Regions from separate parts of the Homo sapiens genome. Here regions 1 and 3 are each linked to region 2. A link means that fine-mapping ties the variant in region 2 to the plasma level of a protein whose gene starts in the linked region. Region 2 holds a variant in brackets. A gene starts in each other region. All regions are shown on their reverse strands. Region 1 holds the start of SIL1 (SIL1 nucleotide exchange factor). Region 2 holds the start of OVCH1-AS1 (OVCH1 antisense RNA 1). Region 3 holds the start of ENTPD5 (ectonucleoside triphosphate diphosphohydrolase 5 (inactive)).

What was found. PIP is the posterior inclusion probability: the model's chance that the variant is causal. Protein levels are from antibody-based Olink assays in UK Biobank. Linkage for the fine-mapping came from a reference panel and not from the study's own genotypes, which makes the PIPs less certain.
Region 1: SIL1 starts here. The variant in region 2 is fine-mapped to the plasma level of the SIL1 protein (UK Biobank, PIP above 0.99).
Region 3: it holds the start of ENTPD5, and the variant in region 2 is fine-mapped to the plasma level of the ENTPD5 protein (UK Biobank, PIP 0.92).

Annotation. Positions count from the first base shown.
Region 1 is chr5:139,195,836-139,203,467 of GRCh38, reverse strand. It overlaps SIL1 (SIL1 nucleotide exchange factor), which reads left to right and starts at 5,100. Exons shown (of 10, transcript NM_022464.5): 1 at 5,100-5,199. RefSeq lists a silencer at 4,895-5,424.
Region 2 is chr12:29,383,170-29,390,801 of GRCh38, reverse strand. It overlaps OVCH1-AS1 (OVCH1 antisense RNA 1), which reads right to left and starts at 1,508. Exons shown (of 2, transcript NR_073172.1): 1 at 949-1,508. The variant A/G (reference allele first, on the strand shown) is at 3,426.
Region 3 is chr14:74,018,502-74,025,946 of GRCh38, reverse strand. ENTPD5 (ectonucleoside triphosphate diphosphohydrolase 5 (inactive)) reads left to right here and starts at 6,659. Exons shown (of 16, transcript NM_001249.5): 1 at 6,659-6,697. BBOF1 (basal body orientation factor 1) reads right to left here and starts at 6,598. Exons shown (of 12, transcript NM_025057.3): 1 at 6,413-6,598; 2 at 2,803-3,031. The coding sequence starts at 6,468. RefSeq lists enhancers at 3,847-4,141, 3,907-4,201 and silencers at 6,482-6,731, 6,762-6,831, 6,842-6,981, 7,022-7,091, 7,007-7,301.

The DNA of each region.
Region 1 (7,632 bases), not on the chromosome of region 2:
TCTCTGCCCTGCCTTGGCCACAGCAGCCCACTCCATCTGAGTGCAGCCCAGGAAGTGGAGGAATCTGGTTCGGGAGCAGTTCTCCTGATTTCCCCTGGAGTGCCCCTTAGCTTCCTGCTTCTTCCATGTTGGCCCCTTGACTTAGCTTTTCTGGGAATGCTGAGTGCTCTGGCTTCACACCCCTGCCGTAGCACTGCCTCTCAGGACCTCTCAAGCACTGTTAGACAATAGAGCTTTTTTTTTTTTCTGAGATGGAGTTTCGCTCTTGTTGCCCAGGTTGGAGTGCAACAGCGTGATCTCGGCTTGCCGCAACCTCTGCTTCCCAGGTTCAAGTGATTCTCCTGCCTCAGCCTCCCGAGTAGCTGGGATTACAGGCATGCGCCACCATGCCCAGCTAATTTTTGTATTTTTAGTAGACAGGGGGTTTCTCCATGTTGGTCAGGCTGGTCTCAAACTCCCGACCTCAGGTGATCTGCCTGCCTCGGCCTCCCAAAGTGCTGGGATTACAGGCGTTAGCCACCGTGCCCGGCCACAATAGAGCTTTTTCATAGAAATGTTCCATCATTTTTGTTGTCCAGTATAGTGGACTGAGCATTTGAAATGTGGCTAGTGTAAATAAGAAACTGTATTTTAACTTTTATTTAATTTTAATTAAATCTAAACAACATGCGGCAATTGGCTACCATATTGGACAACACAGCTCTGAAGAGTTCAGTGGGAAGAGTTTTTGTTCATCTGCAAAATAAATCTGCCCCACCTACCTCACAGAGGTGTCTGGAACAAACAAGGTGATAAATGTGAAAGGGCTTTACTCACAAAAGGGATCTGAAAAGACAGCAGTGTGAACCTCTGGAGTGCAGTGGTGCAATCTTAGCTCACTGAAACCACCTCCCAGGCTCAAGTGATCCTCCCACTTCAGCCTCCCAAGTAGCTGGGACCACAGGCATGTGCCACCATGCCCAGCTAATTATTTTATTTTTTTATTTTATTTTTGGTAGAGATGGGTTTTGTCATGTTGCCCAGGCTGGTCTCGAACTCCTGAGCTCAAGTGATCCGCCTGCCTTGGCTCCCAAAGTGCTAGGATTATAGGCGTGAGCCACTGCACCTAGCCCGTTAATATTTCTGTTAAATGGTGCTTGCCAGGCTGTTTTGATCTGTTTACATTTCTGTGTCTCTCATTTGACCCTGAGCTCTTCGAGGGTAAGAACCAGTAGGACTGTTTCACAGTTGTACCCCCACAGCCAATGGCTGGCATGTAGCTTGGTGCTCATGTTCAAGTGAATAAAATGTCTGCAGTCCAGAAGGGACTCCTGGCAGCAGGATCTGAGTTGTGTGGTGAAAGCTGGGTGGGCAAAGAGGAAGGGGCCGAGGGGAGGAGGCAGATCAATACAGTGGTGAGACAAAGTGAGGGCTCCTGCTCCCCACTCAACATTTGAGGCCCATCCAGAGAGAGCAGGGAGCCAACTCCTGAAGCCAGGAATACTTTCACACAACAGGGTGTGAGGCTTGTGGGAGATTAATTGAGAAAGGCTGATCAGAGGAGAAATGATCTACTCAACATATTCTGCTTGTTGAGGAAGGCCAAATTGATTATAAATCTCCGCCTAGCCAGGGCTCTGGGGGTAGGTGCTGTGGTTTCCTTTGATTTGATTGATGGTGGCCGGGTTGAAGGTGATTCCTCAGTCTCTCTACCCTTCCAAGCCTTCCTTTGCTCTTCTGGGGAGTGGAAGAGGGATTCTAGAAACTCCCCAACAGAACTGCAAGAGAGAGGTGGTTTTTAGCCTGTTGTTTACTTATTTAAAAGGATTTTTTTTTTTTTTGAGATAGAGTCTTGCTCTGTCGCCCAGGTTGGAGTGTAGTGGCGTGATCTTGGCTCACTACAACATCCACCTCCCAGGTTCAAGCAATTCTCCCTGCCTCAGGCTCCTGAGTAGCTGGGATTACAGGCGCCCACCACCATGGTTTGCTAATTTTTGTATTTTTTAGTAGAGACGGGGTTTTGCCATGTTGACCAGGCTGGTCTTCAACTCCTGACCTCAGGTGATCCGCCTGCCTCAGCGTCCCAAAGTGCTGAGATTACAGGCGTGAGCCACTGCGCCCAGCCTAAAAGGAAATTTTAAACTTACTTTTGCTCAATTCCAAGACTTATATAAGGAAACAAAGAGAGGAGACTACCAAAATTCCAGCACCCACTGTGATCACTGGACTTGCACCCAAACTTCTCACCTTTACAGTGGGCCTCCTTGCTTAAGGCCGTGTAAGTAGAGGCTGTCTGCTTAGGTTCAACCTTGCACACTGGCTTCAGCAACTCAAGAGGCTTGATTTCAGAGCAAGTTCAGAGCAAGTTCCTCTGAGAAGGTAGTTCTGTCAGGGTATGTCTTTGTCTGTTGGGACTACTATAACAAACACCTTAGGCTGGGTAATTTACAAACAGAAATTTACTGCTCACTGTTCTACAGACCAGGAAATCCAAGATCAAGGTGCCAACAGATTTAGGGGCTGGTGAGTGCTTGCTCTCTATTTCAAAGATGGTGCCTTGCTGCCTTGCTTCACATGGTGGAAGGGGAGATCACTGTGTCCTTCCACGGCAGAAGGGGCAAGGCAGCTCCCTTCAACCTGACCATTTTTATTTTATTTTATTTTTTTGAGATGGAGTCTTGCTCTGTCGCCAGGCTGGAGTGCAGTGGTGCGATATTGGCTCACTGCAACCTCCACCTCCCAGGTTCAAGCGATTGTCCTGCCTCAGCCTCCTGAGTAGCTGGGACTACAGGTGCACACCACCAAACCCAGCTAATTTTTGTATTTTTAGTAGAGATGGGGTTTCACCATGTTGGCTAGGATGGTCTCAATCTCTTGACCTTGTGATCCGCCTGCCTCGGCCTACCAAAGTGCTGGGATTACAGGCGGAAGCCACCATGCCTGGCCCAACCTGCCCACCTTTTAATACTATCACATTGGATATGAGGTTCCAATGTATGAATTTAGGGGAGACACCAACATTCAGACCATGGCAGAGCTTTTCAAGGTTTGGAGACCAGGCCTGGGGTGGCAGTGGGAGACAGACTATCCCTTTCCTACCACATACCTGAGCTGGTTAGATCCGTCCCAAGGAGAAAGGCCCCGCTTTGAGCGCTGGCAGCTGTGTTCAGCTGGACTCTTCTCTTGGCCCAAGCATTCATTTATTCATGCTATTATAAGATTTGAGCTTATTCTATTTTTAAGGCTCTTACTCTTGTAGCACTTTATTAACATCTTTTTTATAACTCGTGCCAGTCTTATTATAATTTATATGTTCATTCTCTAATTTATCACTCATGAAATATTTGTTGAATATTTATTATCTGTACTTATGGTACTAGGCAGTGACATAAGCTAGAATTATTCTTAGGCCCAGTTCTTCTCACTGGTCTCCTGGGTGTTCCAGGGGAAAAGTGAGCTGTTCTCTTTCCAAATCAGGCCCTAGGTGTTTTATCTAGACCTTTCTCATAAACTGGCACTATTCACTGAACTACTGCCCAGGGGCTTGTTCTCCCTTCCCATACTAGTAACCAAGGTTTGCTCAGTGGCTATGAAGTCAGTTTCCCATCTGCTTGAAGTAAACATAATCAAGAAGGTAAATTGTCTGCTAGAAGCTCATAGAGTACATGGAAAAGGGAAGGGAAGTCCAGAAATAGGTTGTTTGCTATTGGGAAATACTTGCCATTTGGGGAGGTAACTGTCTGGATTACTGTTTTCTCCACTCATGAATGACCAGGAATCACTATGTGGGGGATCTGAGGGCAGGAGGGGGCAGTCATTTTTATTCATCAGGTTAAGCATGTCTAGGCAAGGGGAAGGTCTAAAAGTGGAATAGTGGAAAGAGAACAGGACATTGGAGACACTTAAATCTAGCTTTAACTCCCAGTTCTACCACTTCCTGACTGTATGACTTTGTATAACTCCTTTAGCCTCTTTGAGCGTCAGCTTCTCCATTTATAAAAAGGGGATGACCATTCTGCTCAGAGGACGTTATAAGTAAATAAAATATATATGCAGCACCTGGTACAGAAAGCATGATATTCACTGGTACAGCAGAATTACAACTGCGTTGACACCAGCCTGGGCAACATAGCGAGACCCTGTCTGTAAAAAAAAAAAAAAAAAAAAAATTAGCCTGGCAACGGTGGCACGCGCCTGTGGTCCCAGCTACTGGATGGAGGCTGAGGGGGAGGATCCCTTGAGCCTGGGAGGTCAAGGCTGTGATAAGCCAAGATCCTGCCACTGCACTCCAGCCTGGGGGACACAGATTCTGTCTTAAAAAAAAATCAGAATCGCAAGTGACCTTTATTTTATTTTATTAGATTTTGAGACAGAGTTTCACTCTGTCACCCAGGCTGGAGTGTAGTGGCACGATTTTAGCTCACTGCAACCTCTGCCTGGTGGGTTCAAGCGATTCTCCTGCCTCAGCCTCCCAAGTAGCTGGGATTACAGGCGCTCGCCACCACGCCTGGCTAATTTTTGTATATTTAGTAGAGACGGGGGTTTCACCATGTTGGTCAGGCTGGTCTTGAACTCCTGGCCTCAAGTGATCTGCCTGCCTGGGCCTCCCAAAGTGCTGGGATTACAGGTGTGAGCCACCGCGCCCGGCCACCTGATGCTATTTTTAAAATAACTGGTCCTTGTAAAAAATCTACACAAGTATATAAAGTGAGTGGCTTAAAGGTGTCCTATTTTGCATGAATTTGCGAGAAATTTTATTGCTGGAGACTCTCGGCTTCTGTCCCAAACTGAGTCACAAGAACTTGATTTATTTTTACTCCGCACCCCTCTGATTGCTTTCTGAGGGTCCTTCCGCTAGAAAGAAATTACATTGTTGGAAAATCAGACAGGAAACTTCGCAGTTCCAGCCTGGAAGCAAAAGCAGGCGTGAAGCTATCTCTTCAGCCCTCCCTCCCCCCAAGGGGAGGGGCACGGGGGCAGCTCGTGCAAGAGTCTGCAGAGGGCGGGGCTAGGGGCGGGGCTCCCACCTCGGTGCGGGGCGGGGGGCGCCGCGCGCTGGTCTGGCGGCCCGCGATTGGGCGAGGCCGCGAGCGGCGTGACAGCTGCCAGCTCACCGGCTCAGACGGTCGCCGCCGCGTTTGCGCAGGGGGAGCTGGTCGCCGCCGCGGCCGCCTGGAATTGTGGGAGTTGTGTCTGCCACTCGGCTGCCGGAGGCCGAAGGTAGGGGCGGTGAGGGCCGCCCGGCCCTGGAGCTGGGCGGGGGGCTCAGGGCGCTTCCTGGGCCTCCTCCTGCCGGCGGCCTCGGCGCCTTCCCAGCAGTGTTCTGGGGACCCACACATCCTCACTAGTGTCTCCAAAGCGGGACGTCCAAGTGGGCCCGGGGCTCCCTGCCGAAGGCCTACCTTTCTTATCTTTCCCACTCAGAATGTCTCCATTCACCTCTTTATTGGCAGGAGATGGGGCCGTGGAAATTTGAGATTGGCTTTGGCTCCGCACCTGTTTTTAGTGCCCTTGCCTGTTTCATTCTCCCAGCCTAAGTTTCCGTATCTGTCCGAAGAAGGGGTGGTTTGGTGTTGATCTCCGAGACCCGTGTGTCTCTTCCCATGTGGAATTATTGTCACTCTCTTATTGCTTGTTTTTCTTTGTCCTGGAAAATTTGCCTTTAGAGGTTACAGACTGGTTAGTGTTATCTCTCGGATCGTCTAGGGGCTTTGTGCATAAGCCTTGGGCTCCATTCCCTGGGATTTCCGATAAGATGGTGCGTGGGCAGCTGTACCCCAGGGGGTTCTCATTCAGGTGGTCCCGGAATCCTGGCTTTGAAAATCCCTGCTTCAGAAGTCAGGAGAGAATGACTTGACATATGAGCCCCTGGAATGGGGCTCTGAGTGGGAAAAGCCAGGAATCAGGAAATGCTAACACGTGTGAGGCTGGGGCTTTCTTTGCACCGGAGGAATTAGAATGCCATTTGATGTCTTTTAAAAATATTTGACTACCTATATATGTAAGATCAGTTTTCTAATATTCTTAAATGCCTGGCTTCGTTTAAAGTTCAGTTGGCTTTCCCACCTCAATAAACCTAAATAAAAACATGATCTGAGAGATGGGGCGGGGGTTAAGTTAACCCAAACTAAGTAGACAGGAGGAGAATGAAACTTACATATTTGCTAAGAGAAGAAAGTGATGTGTTTATAAACAGTTTTTTTTTTTTTTTTTTTTTTTTGAGGCGGAGTTTCGCTCTTGTTTCTCAGGCTGGAGTGCAATGGTGCCATCTCGACTCACAGCAACCTCCGCCTCCCAGGTTCAAGCGATTCTCCTGCCTCACCTTCCCGATTAGCAGGGATTACAGGCATGCGCCATCGTGCCCGGCTAATTTTCTATTTTTAATAGAGACAGGGTTTCTCCATGTTGATCAGGCTGGTCTCGAACTCCTGACCTCAGGTGATCTGTCTACCTCGGCCTCCCAAAGTGCTGGGATTACAGGCATGAGCCACCTCGCCTGGCATATAAACAGGTTTTTTTTTGACATTGTGAAAGATATTTTGTTGTGTGTGTGTGTCTTTTCTGCTCTCACCCCACCCAAGTTTTTTTCTTTTCTGATAAAAGTATAGCCAGATTTGGGGATTGGGTAGGATTTTGATGGGAGCCAGAGTGTAACGATATTGGGATTGATATTTGTATAACATGGGTCAGAACTTGGTCTGTGGTTTTGAGAACATGGCTCTCGGGTTTTTAAGATGGTGTTACCACACCACATTTATTTCCCCTTTCTTTCATTTGTTTAGTGAATTTAATCTGCTCATGAATACATGTGCTGTTTTAATGAAATTGGCAATAGAAGAGACGTTCTGCTCCCATTTTACAGGTGATGGAAATGTTAGTAGGGATGCGGCAGTCCAGGAATGAAAAGTTGCCTAGTACTTTGATTCCCACTTACTTCCCCTTCCCTGCTGTTTTCTGAAGGCCAGCTATTACTTCTCTACTGAGGCCAACTGTGAGCCCTGGTGTGTTTCATTGGCAGGAGAAGAGGCTAATTAAGTGAAACTGAAAGGTAACAAAATGGATTTTAAAATAACTGACATGTGGGAACTTGATCCACCAATGAATGTTCTCCTTTAGAGTGATGTGTGCAGGTGTAGGTGGTGGGAGTTGAGGATGGCGTGCCTAAGTGATTTGGCTGTTGTCCAAGGCAGTTTTGAAAATCCACCTCTGGAATTGTTTTCAGAGACCTTTTTGAACCATGCGAGAGATCAGTTTCTTTAATATATTAAACCATACTGTATTATTATTATTATTATTTTTCAGATGGGGTCTCACACTGTGGTTCAGGCCGGAGTGCAGTGGCATAATCATAGCTCACTGCAACCTTGAACTCCTGGGCTTAAGTAATACTCTCACTAAAGCCTCCTGAGTAGTTGGGACTACAGGGGCGCACCACCAGGCCCAGCTAATTTTGTAATTTTAATTTTTGTAGAGACAGGGTCTCGCTGTGTTGCCCAGGCTGTTTTTGAATTCCTGGCCTCAAGCGATTCTTCTGTCTTGGCCTCCTAAAATGTTGAGATTACAGGCGTGAGCCACTGCACACAGCCTATATATATTTAACCCCGAATGGCATGGGTAAGCAACCTTGTCACCTGCCTTGTCTTCAGATGAGTT
Region 2 (7,632 bases):
AACTCTACTTTTGTCATACACTGGCAACCTCTTTAACATCCAGAAAGACTAGATGTTGTCAATTAGGATTCGTCTGTCCTTTATGTACACTATATACACAGATAAGTAAAACAAAACGCACAGAGATAATGATTCATCTTGCCTCGCTGTAAACAGGATGTCATAGAGCTCTCTGCACCTCCCCCTCCTCTCTCTTCCCCTGAACCACACTGCACAATGAGCATTACTCAACAGGTGATTTGGCCATTCCCCCCAAAAAACATTTCCTATGATTTGTAACAAAAAGGTATTTACAAAATGTGATTTTGCTACCTCTAATTTTAACATATCAGGCACTTCAGAACATCTAAAAAGAATAGACATTTCAAAAAAGCTTAGCATTGTCAACTATATACACAGTAGTGAAGAATAAAATGCACACAAAACAATGGATAGAATATGAAAATGTCTTCTAAATATGACCAGTCTAGCACAGAACCTTCTTCTCTTCCTTCTCAGGTCTTCCACCTCCATGTCATCTAACCCACTTAACAAACGTGGACGTATCGCTTCCAGAGGCCGTCTTAACAACTCCATTTCTAAAAGTCATCTCCAGAAGACATGTGTTTTCTATGATTTCTTTTAAACAAATGAGAATTTACAAGATGTGTGACTTTCTATTTTATCATATGTCGGCAACCTCTTTCCATCTAGAAGGGCTAGATGTGACAAATGTTTTCTATTAAAAGGTTGGGGTGAAGTTGAGAGCAGCTTTTTCATATTATATACACAGGCCTTACATAAACGGCCAGTAAATCTTCCCAGAGGGTGGTGGGCATTTCCAACGGGCCAAACGTGGCCTGTCATTCTACCATTTCTCTCTTCTGACAGCAAAGTCTGGTAGAACAAAGACCAACCGCCCGATAGCCGCTAACCGTTCCACCCGTCGTCTTTCGGGACTTCACTCACCTTCCAGGCCCCTGAAGGCCTTTGTCCGTTGTCGTCAGGACTAGGTCGGTCTCGCCCAATGGCGACAGAGTGGTCACCCGGGAACCGGATCTGCGCGGCTCCGTGGCCTAAAGAGGTGGCCGAGCCTGCTTGCGTCCCTAGGCCGCCTTCCCGGGCCCTCCACGCCTTAATGGCCTCCGCCGCGCGGCGTTCAAGCGGCCGCCATACTTTCCGGCCCACCACGCCCGGCGCCGCCCAAAGGCGCTGCGTCCCAGCGACTCTGCGGGGGTTTCGTCGAGGCCCGGCAGGCTTGGGTCGGGAGACGCGGCGGCCGGCGGGGTCCCGTCGGGGAGACGCAGCCGCCGCCATCAGTCATCCAGGTGGGGTGGGAAAGAGAGGTTCGCTGCGGCTTCAAGGCCTGGGCACAGCCAGTGGGCAGCCACAGCAGAGGCCTCCGGTATCTGCAGGGCAGAGGCCTCGGCCTGTCCCGGGGCCCCCCAGTTCACCCGCCGGCCCGGGTCCGGAGGGCCTGGAGGGCCCTGGAGGAGCTGGCTGCGTTCTGCGTCTCTCCGCGCTCTCTGCCAGACCGGAACTGAAGTTAGATTTTTGTATCAGGAAATATAAAAATATCTTCTGCTCTGCTCAGTTGAATGTTCATTTTTTTCTCATAGCATCATGTTTTTTTCCTTTTCTTTATAATTAAGACAGTTCATCATGTACATAAAAATCACATACATGAAGGCACACACATACACAAATGTACTTGTCTTAGATATTCTCTTAGGTTCAGTTGGGTTTATTAATATATAAATATTAACAGGTAAAAATAAAGTAGTAATTGTTACAAGGATTGTTATAAGGCCTGTCACTCTGGAAGGCCACATTTGTGTCTCCAAAGTCCAGCACAACATTTTAAAGAAGGATGAATTTGAAAGTCATTGGATGAGACAAGTATGCTATCTTCATGACCCCTGAAAACATTTGAGTTTCACAGGTGATAAGATTTGTCAGCATTTCTGAGTATTTATTTGTGTCATATTATTGAAATTAAAATTTGACCATAGCATGTGAATTAAATAGGTTACCACTTTTTAATGTAATAGAGAACAATAAAATATTTATATTATGTCTTAGGCACTTAGTTTTAAAACCTCACCCACTTTTAGCATACAATTATGCTTTTAAAAGGTTTAAGAAATATAAAAAGAGCTGAAATGACTTAAAATATAGATTATAGAAAATACTAATAGATGAAATAAATACATTTATGATGAAAAGAAGAACAGATAATATTGATGAAAGAATATTTGGAAATGGAAAGTAAAACACTAAATTAGAATGTTGTAATCAATATAGATAAGTATTTGAAATGAAAAACGTATTTCAGCTGAGTATTTTTGCACTGAAAGATATTGGGCCTACGGTACAATATGTTAAATACATATAGTAATATATTATTGATAATTATTAAGACTATGTACTAACACCTATCAAGATAAATAACACCAGCCATATATTTTTGGGGAGTTTATTTATTGGATCCCTTTTTACCCACAATATATAGTACAAATTCCATGAGGGTAAGAGTGTCTGCTTTGTCACTATGACAAAGTACTTGGTACTTAGCACATCATTTGTCATATTAAAGGTGCTTAATGAAATGAATATTTGTTACAAGAGTGGCCAGACTGCAAGTTCAGTTGACAGATCTGTGGTTCATTTGAGCCTATTAATCCTATTAAAATATTGCACAAACAATGCTTTATAGATAGAAGTGATTACCTTGCTGAAACAGAGGTATCAGATGGCACAGACTGTGCATGGACTGAAAGTATTTATTCATCAGCTGATTATGAAATCTAAACTTGTCATGTGAAAAAGTGATATAAGACTTTTAAGGTCAGGCGCCATGGCTCACTCCTATAATCCCAGCATTTGGGAGGCCAAGGTGGGTGGATTATTTGAGGTCAGGAGTTCGAAACCAGCCTGATCAATACGGTGAAACCCCGCCTCTACTAAAAGTACAAAAATTAGCCTGATGGGGTGGTGGGTGCCTGTACTCCCAGCTACTTGGGAGGCTGAGGCGGGAGAATCGCTTGAACCCAGGAGGTGAAGGTGAAGGTTGCAGTGAGCCGAGATTGTGTCACTGCACTCCAGCCTGGGGGACAGAGTGAGACTCTGTCAAAAAAAAAAGACTTTCAAGTCCCAACTTGGCATATGAAAAAAAAAATGATTTGAAAGAGTAAACTACAATGTTTGAAAATGTAAATTTAAAATCAGACTATATCACTGAGGATCACCTGTGGTTGAAGCAAGTGATAATGAAGGCCTGGTGTATAGCATGAGATCGGGAATAGCCTCATGAATAAAACTGATGGGTCACTGGGATTGGCAGCTAGAGAAAAGGTGGAGGAGACACAAAAATTCTAACCTGGTTAAGTTTGAGGTTAATGGTGCCATTGACTTTTCTAGGCACAGAGGAGAAGAAATAGATTTGG[A/G]GATAAATTATGAAATCCACTTGGGTACTGGGCACGGTGGCTTACACCTGTAATCCCAGGACTTAAGGAGGCCATGGTGGGGACAGATCACTTGAGGGCAGGAGTTCCAGACCAGCCTGGGCAACATGATGAAACCCCATCTCTACTGAAAATACACACACACACACACACACACACACACACACACACACACACACACAATTAACCAGGCATGGCGGCTCATGCCAGTAGTCCCAGCTACTCAGGAGGCTGAGGCACCAGAATTGCTTGAGGTGGAGGTTGCAGTGAGCCGAGATCGCGCCACTGCACTCCAGCCTGAGCAACTGAGTTAGACTCTGTCTCAAAAAAAAGACAAAAAAAAATCCATTTTGGATGTGCTGACTTTGAGGTGCTTATGGGCATTCCATTGTAAAAATTATTCATTTATTAGTTTATCTAAATTTTGCTGCTCACTTGCTGAAACTTTTACTCAAACTAGAGAAAGAAAAAAATGGCACAAAAGCACCTTTTGATCATCTTTACTAAATACAGGTTGTTATGGAACAATTATTAATCTCAGTCTGAAACCTATTGAGAGGTGACAGCGTGCCGGCAGTCCTCACAGCCCTCGCTCGCTCTTGGCGCCTCCTCTGCCTGGGCTCCCACTCTGGCGGCACTTGAGGAGCCCTTCAGCCCACCGCTGCACTGTGGGAGCCCCTTTCTGGGCTGGCCAAGGCCAGAGCCGGCTCCCTCAGCTTGCAGGGACGTGTGGAGGGAGAGGCCCCAGCGGGAACCGAGGCTGCGCGCGGCGCTTGCGGGCCAGCTGGAGTTCCCGGTGGGCATGGGCTTGGCAGGCCCCACACTTGGAGCAGCCGGCCGGCCCTGCCGGCCCCGGGCAGTGAGGGGCTTAGCACCCGGGCCAGTGGTTGCGGAGGGTGTACTGGGTCCCCCAGCAGTGCCAGCCCACCGGTGCTGTGCTGATTTCTCGCCGGGCCTTAGCCGCCCTCCCGCGGGGCAGGGCTCGGGACCAGCAGCCCGCCATGCCTGAGCCTCCCACCCCCTCCGTGGGCTCCTGTGCGGCCCGAGCCTCCCAGATTAGCGCGGCCCCCTGCTCCACGGCGCCCAGTCCCATCGACCACCCAAGGGCTGAGGAGTGCCGGCGCACCGTGTGGGACTGGCAGGCAGCTCCACCTGCAGCCCAGGTGCGGGATCCATTGGGTGAAGCCAGCTGGGCTCCTGAGTCTGGTGGAGATGTGGAGAACCTTTATGTCTTGCTCAGGGATTGTAAATACACCAGTCAGCACCCTGTGTCTAGCTCAGGGTCTGTGAATGCACCAATCGACACTCTGTATCTAGCTACTCTGGTGGGCCTTGGAGAACCTTCATGTCTAGCTCAGGGATTGTAAATACACCAATCGGCACTCTGTATCTAGCTCAAGGTTTGTAAACACACCAATCAGCACCGTGTCTAGCTCAGAGTTTGCGAATGCACCAATCGACACTCTGCATCTAGCTACTCTGGTGGGGCCTTGGAGAACCTTTGTGTGGACACTCTGTATCTAGCTAATCTGGTGGGGATGTGGAGAACCTTTGTGTCTAGCTCAGGGATTGTAGGTGCACCAATCAGTGCCCTGTCAAAACAGACCACTTGGCTCTACTAATCAGCAGGATGTAGGTGGGGACTTATAAGAGAATAAAAGCAGGCTGCCTGAGCCAGCAGTGGCAACCTGCTCGGGTCCCCTTCCACACTGTGGAAGCTTTGTTCTTTCGCTCTTTGCAATAAATCTTGCTACTGCTCACTCTTTGGGTCCACACTGCCTTTAAGAGCTGTAACACTCACCGCAAAGGTCTGCAGCTTCACTCCCGAGCCAGCGAGACCATGAACCCACCAGAAGGAAGAAACTCCGAACACATCTGAACATCAGAAGGAACAAACTCCGGACATGCCGCCTTTAAGAACTGTAACAGTCACGGCGAGGGTCCGCGGCTTCATTCTTGACGTCAGTGAGACCAAGAACCCACCAATTCCAGACACATTTTGGCGACCCAGATGGGACCTTCGCCAATCACCAAGCAGTAAGACCATCGCCTATTGCTGAGCGGTGAGACAATCACCTATTGCCAAGCAGTGAGTACCATCGGACCCCTTTAGCTTGCTATTCTGTCCTATCTTTCCTTAGAATTTGGGGGCTAAATACCGGGCACCTGTTGGCCAGTTAAAAGCGACTAGCGTGGCCACCGGACTAAAGACACGGGTGTCAGGTTTTCTGGGAAAGGGCTCTATAACAACCCCCGACTCTTCGGAGTTGGGACCATTGTTTTCCCTAGAACCAGCTTCTGCTTTTCCAGTACTTCTGGGCTGAGCCGAGGGTCGACAGAGAGGAAAGCCATGCAGCTCTGGGGTCCCGACAACAAGTTGGTTGACCCTGCGGCCATGAGCAGAACTCTCAAAAGCATGTCGCCCAAGCGAGACTCGCCCATCTATCCTATCTATCCTGACCCTTGCCCCCTGGGTCCTAATGCCTGTCAGACAAACTTCCTCTTGCCTCTCTTCTCTGAGGTTAGTCCCGCTTCTAAAAATTGCTACCGTCTCTGGTGCTTTTCTAGTTTCTCCTATAAGAATGATTTCTAGTATAAACTCCAGGACTCTGTTACCTTCTTTAGGCACCCGGGCTCACCAATCAGAAAGACATAATTTTTGCCCAAAGCCCCATCGTAGTGGGGACTACCTGGAATTTTAGGATCCCTCCTCAGACTAACAGGCCTAACAAAAGCTATTCCTGAAGCTAGGATATGGGGAGCCTCAGAAATTATATCCTTCCTATTCATATAAGTGAGGACAAAAGGTGTCACTCTTCCAAACCTGGAGATCCCTTCCCTCCCTCAGGGTATGGCCCTCCACTTCATTTTTGGGGCATAACATCTTTATAGGACAGGGGTAAAGTCCCAGTACTAACAGGAGAATGCTTAGGACTCTAACAGCTTTTCGAGAATGCGTCGGTAAGGGCCACTAAATCGATTTTTCTCAGTTGGTCCCCCTTGTGGCCTAGGAGGACAGGCAAGGGTGCAGGTTTTCGAGAATGCGTCGGTAAGGACCGCTAAATCTGACTTTCCTTGGTCCTCCATGTGGTCTGGGAGGAAAACTAGTGTTTCTGCTGCTGCGTTGGTGAGCGCAACTATTCCGATCAGCAGGGTCCAGGGACTGTTGCGGGTTCTTGGGCAGGGGTTGTTTCTGCTGCTGTGTTGGTGAGCGCAACTATTCTGATCAGCAGGGTCCAGGGACCGTTGTAGGTTCTTGGGCAGGGGGAGAAACAAAATAAACCAAAACGCGGCAGTTTTGTCTTTCAGATGGGAAACACTCAGGCATCAACAGGCTCACCCTTGAAATGCATCCTAAGCCATTGGGACCAATTTGACCCACAAACCCTGAAAAAGAGGCGGCTCATTTTTTTCTGCACTACGGCTTGGCCCCAATATTCTCTCTCTGATGGGGAAAAATGGCCACCTGAGGGAAGTACAAATTACAATACTATCCTGCAGCTTGATCTTTTCTGTAAGAGGGAAGGCAAATGGAGTGAAATACCTCATGTCCAAGCTTTATTTTCATTGAGGGAGAATACACAACTATGCAAAGCTTACAATTTATATCCCACAGGAGGATCTCTCAGCTTATCCCCATATCCTAGCCTCCCTATAGCTCCCCTTCCTATTAATGATAATCCTCCTCTAATCTCCCCTGGCCAGAAGGAAACAAGCAAGGAAATCTCCAAAGGACCACAAAAAACCCCGGGCTATTGGTTATGTCCCCTTCAAGCTATAGCGGGAGGGGTATTTGGCCCAACCCGGGTACATGTCCCCTTCTCCCTCTCTGATTTAAAGCAGATCAAGGCAGACCTGGGGAAGTTTTCAGATGATCCTGATAGGTACACAGATGTCCTACAGGGTCTAGGCAAACCTTTGACCTCACTTGGAGAGATGTCATGCTACTGTTAGATCAAACCCTGGCGTTTAATGAAAAGAATGCGGCTTTAGCTGCAGCCCAAGAGTTTGGAGATACCTGGTATCTTAGTCAAGTAAATGACAGAATGACAGCCGAAGAAAGGGACAAATTCCCGACTGGTCAGCAAGCCATCCCCAGTATGGATCCCCACTGGGACCTTGACTCAGATCATGGGGACTGAAGTCATAAACATCTGTTGACCTGTGTTCTAGAAGGACTAAGGAGAAT
Region 3 (7,445 bases), not on the chromosome of region 2:
GATGGTCTCAAACTCCTGGCCTCATGTGATGCACCCCCCCCACCCCGCCACTCAGCCTCCCAAAGTGCTGGGATTACAGGCATGGGCCACCATGAACAGCCCAGCCTCATGTTTTATATTCCCTGTTCCAGTCCTGAAATCAACCATTTCTCCAAGGAATGCTGGTTTGTTTTAGAAGGGAATCTGAGTAGCTTTTTAAACTAAAGACTTGTTGACATGGTTGTTGACACAAGTGAGATACTATGTACAATGTTTTAGACCACCTTAGGAAAAAATCTAGATATTCTAAAAAATAAACTGGGACAATCCTAAATCACATAAAACTGGTGTGACATTTAATGAGATTATTCTGTGATTAATTCAGTACAGCATTAAATTCTCTTAAGGGGAATCTCCTAATTTTGTTCATAATAAAATAGTTTTCAAAACACATTTCATTTCTATTATTTCTATAATTAACATGACTATAAACAGTTTAAACAAAGTTTAACAACATAACATTTTTCTAGTATATAGCAAAATGAGTAACAAAACTATGGGAAAGCTAGTTAATGAGGATATATTTAGTCTACTTTGTTTCTTCCTCCCAAGGTTGTTTCTTTTGGTTTAATGGCAATCCATGATTATAAAAATTACCCACCTGTTACTGCCAGATGCTGCCCTTTGATATAAGGAGGCAGATGAGAATCAGGAAGTACAAGTGATACTGATGTAGACCAATAACAATGAGCTATTACAAGCCACAAAACAAAGCATCTAAGTAACACATTTGGAAATTATTTCTATGGTTGACTAAAAAAACTTACTTTAGAACAATACTTTATAGAGGGCAATTTAATAATACCTACTATTAAAAGAGTAATTTTAAAAATAAAAATTGGCCAGGTTTTGTGGCTCATGCATGTAATCCCAACACTTTGGGAGGGTGAGGTGGGCGGATCACTCAAGGCCAGGAGTTCCAGATCAGCCTGGCCAACAACATGCCAAAACCCCGTCCCTACTAAAAATACAAAAAATAAAATAAAATAAAGATAGAAATTTCTGGACCAGGTGCTATTGCTCATGCCTGTAATGTCAGCACTTTGGGAGGCTAAGTTGGGAGGATTTCTTGAGCCCAGGAGTTCGAGGCTAGCCTGGGCGACATGGCGAAATCCCATCTCCACAAAAACTACAAAAAAATCAGCCAGGCATGGTGGCTCATGCTTGCAATCCCAGCACTTTGGGAGGCCAACGCGGGTGGATCACTTGAGCTCAGGAGTTCAAGACCAGCCTGGGCAACATGGCGAAACCCTGTCTCTACCAAAAATACAAAAAATTAGCCAGGCATGGAGGTGCGTGCCTGTAGTCCCAGCTACTTGGAAGACTGAGGCAGGAGGATCATCTGAGCCCGGATGTCGATCCTGTGGTGAGCCGTGATCATACCACTGCACTCTAGACCAGGCAATAGAGAGAGACCCTGTCTCAAAAATAATAATAAAGTAATAATAATATGAGACAGAGTTTTGCTCTGATGTCCAGGTTGGACTGCCGTGACATGACCATGGCTCACTGCAGCTTCAACTTCCTGGGCTTAAGTGATCCTCCCGCCTTAGCCTCCCGAGTAGCTGGGACTACAGGTGCACACTGCCACGCCTGGCTATTTTTTACTTTGTGTAGAGACTGGGTCTTGCTTTGTTCCCCAGGCTGGTCCTGAACTCCTAAGCTAAGTTATCCTCCAGCCTCTTCCTCCCAAAGTGTTGGGATTATAGGCATGAGCTACCACACCCAGCCTGAATTTCCACTTTTAACACCCACTAGGGGTGTGACTTTGGGCAAGTTACCTGTCCTTTCTGAAAGTCAATTTCTTCATCTGTAATATGGAAATAACAATATTATAGCTACATGGGGTCATAAAAATAATTAAATAGGAGGTTAGTAAAAGAATCAAGAGAGGTAAAGCACCCAGTATAGTACATTGTAGTGGCTCCAAAATGTTAGTTCCCTTCCCTTTTTCTTTTCTTTTCTTTTTTTTTTTTTTTTTTGAGATGGAGTCTCTCGCTCTGTCGCCCAGGCTGCCAGGCTGGAGTGTAATGGTATGATCTCAGCTCGCTGCAACCTCTGCCTCCCGGGTTCAAGCAATTCTCCTGCCTCAGCCTCCCGAGTAGCTGGGACTATAGGCACATGCAGCCATGCCCGGTTAATTTTTTGTATTTTAGTAGAGACGGGGTTTCACTGTGTTGCCCAGGCTGGTCACGAACTCCTGGGCTCAGGCAATCTGCCCACCTCAGCCTCCCAAAGTGGTGGGATTACAGGCGTGAGCCACCACACCCGGCCTCCTTTTTTCTTCCAAATATAAAATGATAGCTTTACTCTCAACACTTTAATAAGGTACAATAAGATACAAGATTCAACTGGCCAAAAATAAAAATAAAGATTCAACTTGCTGGGTTCAGAAAGTTATCATGGATTATCAGTGAACTGCTTTACAAATTTTTAAAACTAAAAATCAGCATCAAAAAATATATAGATCACATACCATGCTCTTATCCTTAAAATAAAGTAGATCATAAAGTTCCCTTATGATCATCAATCTCTGTTTGCTTCAGACAAGAAAACATGCAACAAGGATTGAAAATAAAAGAGAGCCGATAACAGTAAAACCATTCTGAAAAAGTGTCTTGCTTCAAACAGAGTTAAGGTCAATTGAAATGTCTTAAGTATATGTTAAGATTTCAAGGAATTAAAAATCTTTGAAATACATAACCACATCAGCATCACCATAGAGGTAGTTAATGAGGCCAAGGAGGCTTTCTACCTACCTACCATATTATCTTTCTCCTGATCCTGCTTCTTCAGGTAACTTAATACTGACATTATGTCTTTCTCCATTTTACATTGCTTTTTCTTTAAGTCCTCATTACTTTTTGCCAGTATCCGTGAAGTATCACGATACTTAATCCTAGAGAGTTCTGTGACTTCCAACCTGGCCTCCCAAAGGGAGGCATTGGCCTTGGCTCTGTCCACCACAGATTCATCTGTTTTTATTAACTTCCTGCATGGGAAGAGGATATTGACAGTATATGACTATTTATACAACTCTAATATGCAGATAGTATATAACTCTATTATATTACTATTAAATTTTTCTCTTTTTTTATTTGTTTTGCTTGGCATTGCCTGGCACACATGATCAAATATTGTTGGAAGAATAAGTTAATAAGAAATACATATTCACATTTGAAAAAAGAAAAAAAAAGAAATACATATTCACTTGTATTCACATAAGATAATTAAGTAAGTGCCTCTTCCTGGAGGAGGGGAGTCCTGGAGCATAACTCGAAAAGACTGGTAAAACAAAGGGAAAAGACAGGATAAGCCAAACTCATTTCAGAAAGCTTTCATATCTTTTTTTTTTCTTTTTGAAACTGGGCCTGGCTGTGTCACCGGGCTGGAGTGCAGTAGCACGATCTCGGCTCCCCAGAACCTCTGCCTCTTGGGCTCAAGCCATCCACCCACCTCAGCCTCCCAAGTGGCTGGGACTACAGGTTCATGCAACTATGCCCAGCTAATTTTTGTACTTTTTGTAGAAATGAGTTTTTGCCATGTTGCCCAGGCTGGTCTTGAACTCCTGGGCTCAAGTGATCCTCCTACCTCAGCCTCCGAAAGTGCTGAGATTACAGGTGTGAGCCACTGCGCTTGGGCAGTTTTTATACCTTTTCATTTACTTATTTGATTCTCCCATATTTATTTTTTTTTTAATAGAGATGGGGTCCCACTATGTTGCCTATGCTGGTCTCCAACTTCTGGGCTCAAGTATCCTCCCACCTTGGCCTCTCAACGTGCTGAGATTACAGGTGTGAACCAGTGCCCTAGCCTGATTCTCCTGTAGTTAAACTATCTTTTCTATTCCTACTCACTCAGTGCTGGACTTTGGTTCTCTCCACTGCAAACCCATTATCTCTGTTCAGTTTCTGCATGATGATACCCATTGGTAGTATAACTGTGATCTCCCACCCACTTTACCCTCCACTTTTGAGTGTGTTTTTTTTTTTTCTGGGGGAGGGACGGAGTCTCACTCTTTCACCCAGGCTGAAGAGCAGTGGCGTGATCTCGGCTCACTGCAAGCTCCGCCTCCCAGGTTCATGCCATTCTCCTGCCTCAGCCTCCCGAGTAGCTGGGACTACAGGAGCCCGCCACCAGGCCCGGCTAATTTTTTGTATTTTCAGTAGAGACGGGGTTTCACCGTGTTAGCCAGGATGGTGTTTTTGTTTTGTTTTGTTTTGGGCTAGGTCTTGGACAAAAAGTCAAGTCACTAGGGCAAATACGTTAAATAGTTTATCAGCTGGTGCCACAGTTCACCGGACTTTTTTTTTTTTTTTGAAACAAGATCTTGCTCTGTCATCCAGGCTGTAGTGCAGTAGCACCATCACAGCTCACTGCAGCCTCAACCTCCCAGGCCCAAACGATCCTCCACCTCAGCCTCCTAAGTAACTGTGACTACAGGCATGAGTTAGCATGCCCAACTAATTTTTAATAAAAATTTTTGTAGAGACAGGGTCTTCCTATGTTGTTCAGGCTGGTCTTGAACTCCTGGGCTCAAGTGATCTTCCCCTGCTCAGCCTCCCAAAGTGCTGGGCATGAGCCACGATGCCCCACCCACCGGGCTTTAAGGATGCCTGAGAAACCATAATCATTTATATAGAGGTGGAGAGGAAAAAGGATGGATTCAAAGATTAAAGTGGTAAAGGAAGAGATTTTTCTAAATATTTATTGTATAAGCATTAACAAAACACTCCCCCTTATATATGGTAGGTACCATGATATATAAATATGTACATATTTAAGAATATTTCACCTGTATTTGAATTCTAAATATTTTCACACATATGTACATGTGGACCTTTCTATACTGCCACCCTCCACATCCACTTTCCTACCTCTGGTTCTCAGTCCTCTTCCACAGAGGTAATGGGTTTGCAGTGGAGAGAACCAAAGTCCCACTTTCACCTTTTGTTCTCTTCAAATTAAGGCCAGCTCCATTCCCAACCCCTCAGCCTGTTATAGCTGTTGATGTCCCTTTCTGGCATGATTTAGGCACTAGTGATACACTGTCTCACTACGACCATCCAGGTATCAGGTCTGAGTGGCTCGAAGTACTTGATGCGACAGGGCATGGTGGCTCACGGCTGTCATCCCAGCACTTTGGGAGGCCGAGGCGGGTGGATCACCTGAAGTCAGGAGTTCGAGACCAGCCTGGCCAACATGGTGAAACCCTGTCTCCACTAAAAATAAAAAAATTAGCTGGGCGTGGTGACGGGTGCCTGTAATCACAGCTACTCGGGAGGCTGAGGCAGGAGAATTGGTTGAACCCAGAAGGCAGAGGTTGCAGTGAGCTGAGATCGTGCCATTGCACTCCGGCTTGGGCAACAAGAGCAAAACTTGGTGTCAAGAAAAAAAAAAAAGTACTTGATGCAAGAAATTAGACACTCTAATAGGACCACTGATACTCACTGTAGAAACAAAGCCAGGTTTCTCAAACAATGGGTCATGGAAAATCCAAGGAATAAGGTCTCTTACCCTTAGTGTTCCTCATTGTTCAAATGTGTACTGTAGAAGCATGGTCAAAATCTGAAAACATATGTTAGTGAGTTCTAGGAATGTGATAAGCCCTTGGCACTTTAAGGGCTAGACTAACTGTGCAGTTATGTAAAAACAAAAAAAAAATACCATAAAAGAATACTTACATTAACAAATGGGAAGAAAAAAGCCACATATAAGTATGTACATTGGGCTATCGTTTTATTAAAAAAGAATACTCCAAAATATAGTAGTGTTTATTTTTGGATAATGAGACTACAGGTGATTTTTGTTTTTTCTTTTGGTACTTCCCATGTTTCCCAAACTTTCTGTATTGAGCATGAATTACTCTCTTAAGTTACTTTACAAACATCTCAAGTTTGGTGCCAACTCTGTGTTCCCATATATGGTGTTGTTGCTGGACACCACGTATGACTCCAACGTGTCCAGAAACCACCGGGGTCCCCCAATAGGGCTAGTAGCAATCTAGCAGCAACTCCAGGCCTGTAAGGGGTTAGTGCTAGAACATTACCCACCTCAGTGGCTCTGATCAGTTTGGGAAAACCTCAATAATTATCCAACTTGGTAAAATACTTTAGGTGTCCCCTTTGAACCAAAAGAGATCTCTGAAAAGGCCCAAGGAACTACTTTATACATCCTCTACACGTTTAAGATAATCTGAACACATAGTAGAGATCTGCCAGACTATGGACATGGGAGCTGTAATCCTCACAAGCCGGGAGAGCCGGGGAGAGGGTCCGAGTGGGCCGGCGCGGGGGGCGCCAGGTTGCCAGCCCCAGACCCGAAATCCCAGGCAGGCCCAGGGAGAGGGGACTCTCGGGTGGCTTCTCCTTACTTCGTGTCTTTGCCTTTGCTCTTGCCTTTCTTTTTGTCCTTTCCCTTCGACGGCATCTTGGCTTCCCCAGGGGCTCCGCTGTCGTAGTTGCCCAGCCGCGGCCGCCCTGGCCAGCTCTGTCTCCAAGGGAACCGGGACGCCGAGCTGGCAATGCCCCACCCGCGCCGCTGACGGCGCGCGGAGAGCGCACGCGCCCGTGACGTAGCCCAGGCGCCGCGGCGCGCGGGGTGGGGCGGAGGTCGCGCCGAGGGCGGCGGGCTGCCGCGCAAGGGTGGCGCGCGCGCGGTGAGTGTGCGAGTGTCGGCGGCGCCGGATCCTCTACGTGGGGCCCGGGCTCTGCGGGCGGGAGGCGGGAGCTGGCAGCCCCAGGCGGTAGCGCTTCGTCCTGCGGCCTGGGTGTGTCAGGAGTCGCTGCGGTCGGGGCGCCCTTGCCTCAGGAGACTTAGATCCCCGCTGATCCGCCCGTCCCGCCGCAGTGGTCTGAGCCGCAGCCCTTTCCCGTGCCGCCCGCGGGTCCCGTTCCTCCCGTGTCTCCATGCCGCAGCCAGCGTGGCCGCGGCTACCTTGCCCTCGCCCCCGCTCCGCTTCTGCCGCTCCCGGCACTGCCTTACTCCTTTGGGTTGCATCTCTTTCCTGGCTTTTCACCCTTGCTGATTCTGTAAGGGATAGTGCAGCCAGCGGACGTCCCAGGCCAAATGTTTTTTGATAGGCAGTCGAGGACTTTCCCGAGGGCGGTGGTTGAGGGCGAGGCTGCCAGCCTCCGAAGAGCAGCGGCACGCCAGGGAGCCGGGCGGGGAGGGGAGTGCTGCCACCGAGGTCGGGAGCAGGGTCCTCGGCCTCACTAGGTCCTGTGTGGCCGATACTTCCTGCCCACGACCGCCCCCCGGATTTCCATTTGCTAATACCGGTCCGCAGCCTTCTTTCCTGAAAGTTGCATAAAGTTGGAAGCTCTTCAACTTGCCTCCCCGACTCCTGAAATCCCGAATACACCTCTGAAAAGGAGTGTACTCACAAGTATTCTCATTTTTCAATG